2 separate regions of the Homo sapiens genome follow, and region 2 is linked to region 1. The links come from fine-mapping of genetic effects on gene expression. Tissue or cell type: monocytes after LPS. Region 1 holds a variant in brackets; the other region holds the start of a gene. All regions are shown on one strand. Distances are between the middles of the regions.

Region 1 (5,201 bases):
TGATCTTCCCTCCATGCCTGTGTCTGTGTCTTAATCCCCTTTTCTTCTAAGGACGCCAATCTTATTGGACTAGGGCTCACCCTGAGGGCTGGTTTTACCTTAATTCCCTCTCTAAAGACCCTGTCTTCAAAACAGCGATATTCCTAAATTCAGGGGTTAGGACTTCAACAAATGAATTTTGGCGGGGGGCACAGTTCATAACACTAGGGTTGTCCTGGTTTGCCAGAATTGGAAACTTCCCACATTAAAATAGCCACCAGTTTGGGAAGATGTGTACCCAGCAAGATCTGCCATACTGTTTCACCACAAAGAAGATGCTAACAAATGTCAGTGCAGTGATAAGTGTGATCAGCATAAAGCAACCTCTCAAATTTGGATGCTGTGTCAAAGGCTATGAGAATTAAATGGAACAGCATCTTTGTTTGGATTAACCTCTAAACATCTGAATTTTCTTTTCTCTAGAACAAAGAAAACCATGGGCTGGTGGAGAAGCTGACTAGCCTGGCTGCTCTTCGAGCTGGGGATGTGGAAAAGATTCAGAAGCTGGAAGCAGAACTAGAAAAAGCAGCCACTCACAGGCGAAATTACGAGGAGAAGGGGAAGAGATACAGGGATGCTGTGGAAGAGGTCAGCTGCGGGCGTGTGAGACGGGATGGAAATATGCGGACTCTCTGTGAAAAAGATGAGCGCTGCCAGCTTTTCCTATGAAGTGGATTTCTGCAGAGCAAATCAGATTTTGCTATCAACTTCCATTACCAAAGGGAGCCTACCTTTTAGGAAAGGCGAGATCAGAGGATTAGAGTCTAGGGGAAGGGAGGAGGTTAATAATGAGAGAAATGCAACATAGGTTTTCTCTTTCTTTCAAGTTTTGCAAAATGATGACAGGCCCAAAGAGCCCTGGCTGGCTGCCTCCCTTTCTTCCAGGATGACCTTGGTCTCCTATCACTTGTCCTTAAGGTCTATGCCCTGGAAATGTCTTCCCCTGAACAGCGATGCAAAGCTAGGGTAGGGTTTTCATCTCTGGTGTAGTGAAAAGAGCAGTCAGCATAAAAACCAGATGCCCTAGATTCAAATCTTGCCTTTGTCTGGCTGGGCAGCCTTGGCTAAAGTCCCTTACCCTCTCTGAATTTTAGTTTCCTCATATAAAAAAATGAGAATAACAAAAAAGGACTGACAGAATTGTTGTGAGAATAAAATCATCAGATGAAATACGTTAGCCAAATGCCTACCATAATGAATTTTAGTTTCCTCCTATATAAAATGAGAATAACAAAAAGAGATTGACAGAATTGTTGTGAGAATAAAATGGTCAGATGAAATAATGTAGCCAAATGCCTATGGTGAGTCCCTGCAAAAGTGTGAGCTAGTGTGTTCTAAGAAGGTGATCTTTATTATCATCCACTCTGCTGCATTTTGTTTTTTTTTTGTTTTTTTAGACGGAGTCTTGCTCTGTCATCCGGGCTGGAGTGCGGTGGCGCAATCTCGGCTCACTGCAACCTCCACCTCCCGGGTTCAAGCAATTCTCCTTCCTCAGCCTCCCGAGTAGCTGGGATTACAGGCATGCGCCATGACGCCCGGCTAATTTTTTGTATTTTTGGTAGAGGTGGGGTTTCACCATGTTGGCCAAGCTGGTCTCGAACTCCTGACCTCCAGTGATCCACCCCCGCTTGGCCTCCCAAAATGCAGGGATTACAGGTGTGAGCCACCGTGCCCAGCCTCTGCTGCATTTTCAAAGTCCTAGCACCCAGGGTTGGTGGCTTGGAGGCCCAGAAGACATCCCTTTGCCCTCCCCATGACCCGGTGCTGGGTGCACCAACACTGCTGCCGTGGGCATCGCCAGCTGCCAGTCACCATCAGTCAGCACCACGGGGCCTGCTGCCAGCCCAGCAGACACTTTACCAGGAGAAGTTGAAATGATAGGAATCCTGCTGTGCTCACACATCCTTCCTGAGTCATAACAGTTGCAAAGTGTGAATCCCCTTTACGCCATCAACTGTGTAAT[C/G]ATAGCATATTCGACATATAAAGTCCCCTGGCTATTGAGAAGCTCGACAAAAGGAAGAAGTATGTCCTTGACATTGAGGAGCCCTTGAATGTGTCCTTTCTCCTTGTTTCAGTCATTGCTGGCCAGGTCGGGAATAGTGTCACCTTTGAAGTCACGTTGAGCTCTTGCATGTGAAACAAATGGCAGCGTCTTACAGTGGCTGGTGCTCGCTGTTATCTATAGACAGGAGCTGAGAAAAAATAAACTAATTTAAGAATATACATCTTTTTGTGAAGAAAGGCAATGGTGACAACTTGAAGTGAGGTTTTCAAAAAAGTTTGTTTTTCCCCCTTCCCTCTGCTAGAAATTGGCAAAGCTTCAGAAGCATAATTCAGAACTGGAAACACAGAAAGAACAAATACAGCTGAAGCTTCAAGAGAAGACTGAAGAGTTAAAAGGTAAAGCTTGGGGGGCACAAATCCAGACATTCACTGATTTAGTCACTCAGTAAACAATACTGGGGTTGACCAGTTTTAGAACCAGGGGTCTCTGGTGTACACTTAGTTTAGTGAGGCAATTTTTGCTCACAAGGAATAGCCATATTTAAGTCGTGGTAACTTTGCCCTACAGATTCGTCTGTTTTATTTCTGTCTTTTGTCAGACAGCACAGCATTTCCTCTCTGTGCCTCAGAACCTCCTGGGCCCTTTGCAAAGTACAGATGGTCGGACCATGAGCCCGGAGCTTTTGCATCAGGAAATGGGTGTGTGTGTGTCTGTGTGTGCGCATTCGTGTGTGGTGGTGTCAGAGGTGGTTCAGACATCCGTAATTTTAGAAAACCTTTACGGTAATCCTGATGTACAGTCAGAGTAATGCTGCAGTCATGTTTGGTGCTCACCAAAGATTTGCAGAAAAAATTCTGATCTGTCGGAGTTACTTAGCCTAAGTGACACCCATGTCCTCTGCTACTGTCCTGCCCTGAATGAAGAAGGGCAGACCCTGGAACCAGTAGGTATCACTTCCTTTAGGGCTGTGGAACAGCTACGCTTAGCCTAGCTCTACACATTTGAGCTTTTCAGCTCAAGTTCAACTTGACAATACTTGTTGTACCCCAGAAAAGGCAACAGGCAACAGAGCCTGGTGATCCCTGACCAGATAGTTTAAATCACCACTCTCAGTGATCTTGCCTAGGGATCTCTTCCTTGAGCTCCAACGTGGGGGCAGCAGGAACACGAGGGTTCAGGCCTGGGGATTCTACACGCACCTCTAGCCCAGCAAATGGTGGATATGATGGGGCCCAGAGGAGTGCAGAGCCCTGGGAGTTCAGGGCGGAGAGTGGGAGGAGCGAATGTTGGTGAAGAGGGAGTAAACAGCCTGACACCAGGGCACTGGGGCAGGAAAGGCTGTGCAGGTGCTGACGAGGAGCAGGCCATGCCCTCCTGTTCTAGGTGCTGCGTGCCCTCCACCCTGTCTCTGTAGGGCTGATGGTGTGGGCACAGAAGCCATGTGAATGTCAGAGATGAACAGGAGCATGTCAGAGGTCCGGGAGTAAACCTTGAACCTGAGTTAGGAAAGGGTTTCCTCATCTCCACCCTTTTTATTACAGCACACTCCTCTTGGGTGGTTGTTTTGGCTTTTTTCCCCCCTAACTTCAAATAGAATTTCCCACAAGGGCATTTAAATTCTCAGGAATATAACCTGAAAATTATGTTTCTGAGACCATGTCATGTTTGGGTGAATAATTTTACATCCTCTTCCAAAAAGTCCATGAAAACTTTCAATGTAATATTTATAAACTGATTATCCTGTGCGCCTCCCCCGACATGGCAAACAGTGTTTTGTGAATAGCACCAACCTTTACCTATGCTTGTGACCTAAGACCCAGGGATGCTATCAAATGCTGTTTCTCCTTTTTGAGATTCTAACTTAACATGGACATAATCCCATTCCTCTTGAGAAGTAAATCACATTCGAGCAGCTTCTTTAGCGCATCTGCAAATGGCCTAAGATGGTAAGCACCAGAATTAAAGCCAATGCTTTTGGTTAATTGAAAATTGAGGTTATATAAAACGTGTTGGCTTCTAAATTAAAGCTTGAGCATTTCCCCCAGTATTTCCTGGCTGCCTTACAACGTTCTGAAGCAGTCATTTTGATTCAGAAACATTTGGCACTATGTTAGACAAACTATTAAACTGTTGGCTAAAAAAAAAAAGTAATTTGGAGAATTGCTATCGACGGTGCACCCCGAGGACTCCTTCTGGGGTGGGGCTCAGAGGTGAGGTAGAGCTCAAGGATGAGATATCAGCTTAGTGCAAATAGGGACATCACCATTTGAGGGGCTGCACTGCCATTCTCCCATTTTGATGGCCCCTGTGGCATATGGGTGTGTTGGGAATGTGGGGTTGTCATAGCCATGGAACGTCCTGCCCTTCGGCCTGCAGACTTTGTGTTTGCGACTCTTGTATTTCAGTGTTAACAGCTGCCTTTTTTGTACTTCCTCTTTCCCAGATAGAGACAGACACTTGATTATTTTCTTGGTTATCACAGATGAGTGGTTCTCAGCTTTGCTGCCACCTCACCCCCCAGACATTTGCCAATGTCTGGAAACAATTTGGGTTGTCACAACTGGAGCAGAGGTGCTACTGGCTTCTAGAGGGTAGAAGCCAGGGTTGCTGCTCAGAATCCTGCAATGCGTGGGACAGCCCCTCTCCACAGCAAAGAATTATCCAGCCCAAAGTAGCAATAGTGCCAAGACCGAGAAACCTTGTCACAAATGGATCATTTTCTTCCCAAAGGGTTTCTATTTATTTATTTATTTTTTTTTTTTTTTAATTTTTTTTTTTTTTTTTTTGAGACGGAGTCTCGCTCTGTCGCCCAGGCTGGAGTGCAGTGGCGGGATCTCGGCTCACTGCAAGCTCCACCTCCCGGGTTCACGCCATTCTCCTGCCTCAGCCTCCCAAGTAGCTGGGACTACAGGCGCCCGCCACTACGCCCGGCTAATTTTTTGTATTTTTAGTAGAGACGGGGTTTCACCGTTTTAGCCGGGATGGTCTTGATCTCCTGACCTCGTGATCCGCCCGCCTCGGCCTCCCAAAGTGCTGGGATTACAGGCGTGAGCCACCGCGCCCGGCCTCTATTTATTTTTAATAATATTCATTGTCTCAAAGCCAATATCTACTTTAATAAATAACAGACCAACAAAAGTACTATAAATGAAACTAT
Region 2 (5,124 bases), 60 kb before region 1:
TAATATAAATAATTTTGTATATAAATAAATGCAAAATTAAATTTACCATGATCCTCTCTTTGTGGCATTTATCATTATTGATCCATGCCAGGCCTCTCTTTATATTTTTTGATCCCCTTTTTGAAATCTCCGATTCCATTTCTCTCCCTCATAGGTATCCACTCTTGCATATTTAATGAATGACTTTGTAATTTATCCTCCTTACCTCTATTCACACATACTTGTACCCATGAACAATATTCAGTATTGCAGTTTTTGTGAGTTTTTAAATATTAAAGACTTGGGCTAGACATCTATTCAACATTGTTTTTTATTTCTGAGTCAAGTAGATCATGTCTATTCCTACTAACAGCTGTAGAGTTTTACATGTATATACTATTTCTTTTTTTATTTTTCTCTGCTGTCTGCCATGTATATACTATTTTATTTATTCCCCTATTGATATTTAGATGCTTCCAACTCTTTGATAAATAACTATGTTGTGATGAACATCTACTTAACTGTCTCTTTGGGTGACTGTGAGAATTTTTCTGCCTACATTTATTTTCATAACTATTCTCAAATTGCTCTCCAGGATGGCAGTATATTCCCACCAGTTATGTAAGCAAAAAAAGTTTTTATTTTTTTTATTTATTTTTTTTTTTTTTTTGAGACGGAGTCTCGCTCTGTCGCCCAGGCTGGAGTGCAGTGGCGCAATCTCGGCTCACTGCAGGCTCCGCCCCCTGGGGTTCACGCCATTCTCCTGCCTCAGCCTCCCGAGTAGCTGGGACTACAGGCGCCCGCCACCTCGCCCGGCTAATTTTTTGTATTTTTAGTAGAGACGGGGTTTCACCGTGTTAGCCAGGATGGTCTCGATCTCCTGACCTCGTGATCCGCCCGCCTCGGCCTCCCAAAGTGCTGGGATTACAGGCGTGAGCCACCGCGCCCGGCCAAGTTTTTATTTTCTCACATCCTAGGCAGTATCTGAGATTGTCTAACCTAAATGTTTTTGCCAATATGATGGGTAAAAAGCAATATCTCATTGTTGTTTTCATTTGTATTTATCTGATTACTGCTAAAGTTGACATCTCCTTGTATGCTAACAAGCCATTTAAGTGTCCCCATCTGTGAATTGCCTATTAATTTTTGTCAGTTTTAAAAATTGGATTTCTTTTCTTTAACCGATTAACAATTCTTCTATATGGAAACTACTATAACCCAACATTTTAAAGATATTATCCCTCTTTTATTCCTAATAATTTCCCGGTTTTAAGTTTTAATCGTGAATCCATCTGGAGCTTATTTTTGGATGCAGTGTTTGCCACGGATCTGCTTTTATTGTTTTTCCATATAACGGGCCCATCTAATAAATATTATTTTATTTCCCTATCTGGTCCTTAAGGCTACCGTATAATGTAGGGCCCTGCTGGGGGGCTCCAGCATGTTCCATTACTCACGTATCCGTTCTCACGCAAGTGTCACACTGTTTTAATGACTACTGCTTTGTTATGTCCCTAAATATATGGCAGGACAAATCTCTCCTCTTTGAGAATTGTCTTAGTTATACAGGGCTTTTATTCTATATGAAATATAGAATCATTGTACAATTCTCCAAAAGTTCTGTAGGATTCTGACGCCAATATATTAGGCATATATATTGATTTGGGTAGAAGTGACACCTTGACCATATTAAATATTCCCAGCCAGGAAAATGGCATGTCTCCCGTTTACCTGGGCCTTCTTTTAAGCTCTTTAAGAGAATTTTAAACATTTTCTCCACAAAGGCCAAGGGCATTTTTGCGAGTGTAATCTCTGGATACTTTATATTTTCACTAATATTGTAAATATCTTGTATTGCATAGACAATGCTCATATAAAGGACCATTACTTATTTTTGTATTTGATTTTGAATACGATGACCTTGCTGGACTCTTAACACATTTCTTTGTGTTCAGTACGTTGATTCCCTTGGGTCTTCCATTTAAATGGTCGTATCCTCTGCTCTTTGAGGAGCTAACACTCGGGCCGGGCAGCCTCCGGATGCATCTGTTCCTGCCTGGCAGCGCGCCCCGGGCCCCAACCTTCTCCACCCGCGCTCCCGCCAGGTGCAGCCGCCCGGCCCCGGCCAATGGCAGCGCCGACTAGCCGGGCCAAGCTTGGAGGGACCAATCCCGCCGCTGCCCCCTCCCCTCGCCGCCAACTCGGGAACGGGAACAGGAGGCCGTTGGAAAACTTTGGGCAAGATGGCCCGGCGGTGATTTCCGCGGCGGTCTCTCCTGCGCCCGGCCTCTGCGGCGCAGGCCCAGCCCCCGAGCCTCGCACGTTCGGCAGCCCCGGCCTGGCCCCGGCCCCTCCTGCCCATGGCGGTGGCCGAGCTGTACACGCAGGTAGGAGGGTCCGCTGGGCTCCTGGGAGCGCTGTGGGGGAGCCGGCCCTGCTAACGCTGACTCGACCTGGCGCCCGGGCCACACCTGCCACACCTGCGCACCTGACACGGCAGGGCGGGCGGGCGCGCGCTGGGGGCCGCGGAGGCGCCGCGGAGGGGCCACGGGGACCGGGGACACGAGCGAGCGTCGCCCCTCCAGGGCCCCGGCGTGCTCCGTCCCTGCCCGCGGGTAAGCCCCCTCCTGGCTCCGCTGCGCCTGGGTGCCCTGTGGGTGGGAAGACCCTGTGGGAGGGGCCGCCCCCTCCGCCGCTCCGGCCTCGGGGCCTAGAATCCCCAGTGCCCAGGGGTCGCGCGTGCGTCCCCATCTCCCGGGACTGGAGCGCCTCGGTCCCTTCCTACCACACCACGGGTGGAATCAGAGTTGCCCATGCGGACGTAGGAAGCTGAGACGCCGGCCAGTCTCCTGGCCCCTCCTGGGACCCCCTTGAACGAGCTGGCATAGAAGCTTATGGCCGCAGTGTTCGGGCTGCTTTCTAGAATTCTGTGTCTTCAAAGTGCGTGAACGTGCATGTAGGCTCATCAGAAGCTGAAGCAGCCTGGGTCACAGGCTTGAGGGCACTGCAGTGGCACCAAGCGCTTGGGGAGCCCAGGGGCCACGAGGTGCAGTCGTAGGCTCTTTGCCTAACATCTGTACTGTTAGCAACAGTACAAACACCACAGTTTCTAAAGCGCCTTTCATATACCCTGACTCTGGGAAACACTAGAGCATTCCTCAGAAGCTTCCTTTCTGCTGGCTGGGGCTCCACCTCTTACCTCGGAAGGGCAGCGTTCCCACATATGTCCCAAACCCTCTGAGATGGGCTTGGGTAATTATTTGGATAAAGAGTGTGACAGTGTTAGCACTTTTGAAAAAAAAAATCCATTTGAATAGCCATAAAGCCTGATCCTCCTATACACCAGTTGGGGAAATCTAGAGACCTCAGTATTCAGACGAGTGGAACTAGAATCCATCCATTTCCCCGGACACATGCTCTAGCTTTCTACTTTAAAAGATGCTTTTGCTGTAGATAGAAAAGATAGTTATTTAAAAAATCATGTTTCAATGGTTTAAGCAAACGTTTTTCTTCTACTTTGATTACTTAGTAACAGTCCGGACACAAAGCAACCGAACTGTAGTTTCTCCTCTATTGCATCTCCATTAACTGGAGTTCTAAATGGACAGTGTTTGAATTGCCCTAGTTTTGTTCTAGAATATTTTCACCAGTGAGACTGTGAGCCCTCAGACAGCCAACAGCGCTTCTTCAGCCTTCAGTTTACTGGAAGTGAAAGAAAAGTCTTGGACTAGTCTTCGACGATACTTTGGAGGACAGAGAAAAATGCTGCTGCTGAACCTATTTGAGGTGACAGTATTTCCAGAAGCAGAAACACACAGGTGCAAGCACCCCTATTTTTAGGTGCCTCAAACCTCAGATATTTATTAAATGTCTAGTAAGTACCAGGCACAATGTAAGAAAACTGATAGGAAGGAGTTTAAAGGTACAAGCTTGGAGGGAATGAGAATCTGAGAATCCCAGAGACTGACGCAGCCTGATGGCCATTCCCACTGACCTTGTGTCCACGTAGACACCTGTGTTCCTAGGCTGCCACCTCCCTTCCTGGTGGGCAGTTAGCCCCCATTTTGTCTGTTCTGGAGGTGTGAAGGGGAGGGCCATGGCAGCCAGAGAGCGAGGTCAGGGCTTTATTCCCCAGTGTGGGTTTTGAGTGGGGGCTGGCAGAATCAAGGGTGGTGTGTTAGGACTGTTAGATTTGTTATGTATGCCAGCAGCGCCCTTGGGCTGTGGAGGAGAGAGGCCGGGGTCACGTAGCTGAATTCTCAGGTCATTCCAGCTGTTGGAAAAGAATTAGAGCTGCAGTGTTGGCCATGGAGGGTGGAGGCAGGTGAGGCTGAGAGGCTGGACTGGGGAGTGGGGTGGGGGTTGAAGGGACCAGCCAAGGATGACATTTGAGGTTAGAGTCTGTATGAGAGACAGCAGGGTGGTGCCCTTGAGTGAATTAAGGATGTGGCATGAGGAGGAAATATTTCTTAAGAAAGTCATCAGGCAAGTTCTGTATTTGCAGGGGTTGAAGGGGTGAGGGGGCTTCCAAGGGAAGGTGCCTTGCAGGGTGGGAGGTGTCAGAGGGAGGGGATGGGCCCTGCCGAGGGTCTTCTGCCCAGAGGTGGTCACTGAAGCCAACAAGACACTGAGGGTCTCACCAAGGTGGGAGAAGGCAGACAGAGAAGAGGGTGAGGGACAGGCCAGCGGGGAATGCATCTGTGCAAGGAGTGAGAGGAAGCAGAAGGGCTGAGATGGAGCCATCCAGAGGAGGAGCTAACAGGGGAGCTGGAAGCCACCCTGTGGGAACAGGGAAGAGGGAACTCCAGGAGAAGTCTTGGTGAGGGGAGCAATCGCTGCCAGGTGAGGTGTAAAATCATCCATCTCTTTTGAAAAGCTACAGGTGCCATGCCTTAGAAATGTTCAGAGCAGCAGTTCCCCTATTTGAAATCTCTCTTAAGAAGAGCCGGTCTGGCATTCTCTGCTCTACCACCTCTAGAGGCTCCCATTGCTTTCAGACTCACTGACCAGCCACGAGGTCCTGCCTCTCTCCCTGCCTTCCTGCTCTTACCTGGCTCATGCTCTGCCAGACTCCTTGCCATTCCCTCAATGCCTTGCTTGCACGTTGCCACTGCGTGCCTTGGCACACGAACTCCACCTGTCTGA

Alleles and levels. Alleles are on the strand shown, and positions count from the first base shown. SD is a standard deviation of normalised expression in the study named.
For the expression in monocytes after LPS of the gene that starts at base 2,172 in region 2, G is the low allele of the variant in region 1 and C is the other (large effect, 1.1 SD a copy in Quach 2016).

Evidence for each region. PIP is the estimated chance that this variant, and not a neighbour inherited with it, causes the effect.
Region 2: MYO5C starts here. The variant in region 1 is fine-mapped to the expression of MYO5C in monocytes after LPS (Quach 2016, PIP 0.95).

What each region holds. Positions count from the first base shown.
Region 1 is chr15:52,232,908-52,238,108 of GRCh38, reverse strand. It overlaps MYO5C (myosin VC), which reads left to right. Exons shown (of 41, transcript NM_018728.4): 22 at 463-627; 23 at 2,346-2,439. LOC105370820 (a long non-coding RNA gene) reads right to left here. Exons shown (of 4, transcript XR_007064638.1): 4 at 783-2,231. Among named protein-coding and RNA genes, the nearest start is that of MIR1266, 42 kb to the left of the region's middle. The variant C/G (reference allele first, on the strand shown) is at 2,003.
Region 2 is chr15:52,292,852-52,297,975 of GRCh38, reverse strand. It overlaps MYO5C (myosin VC), which reads left to right and starts at 2,172. Exons shown (of 41, transcript NM_018728.4): 1 at 2,172-2,366. The coding sequence starts at 2,340. LOC105370819 (a long non-coding RNA gene) reads right to left here and starts at 3,092. Exons shown (of 4, transcript XR_932250.3): 1 at 2,765-3,092. RefSeq lists a silencer at 2,349-2,508 and enhancers at 3,950-4,119, 4,993-5,042.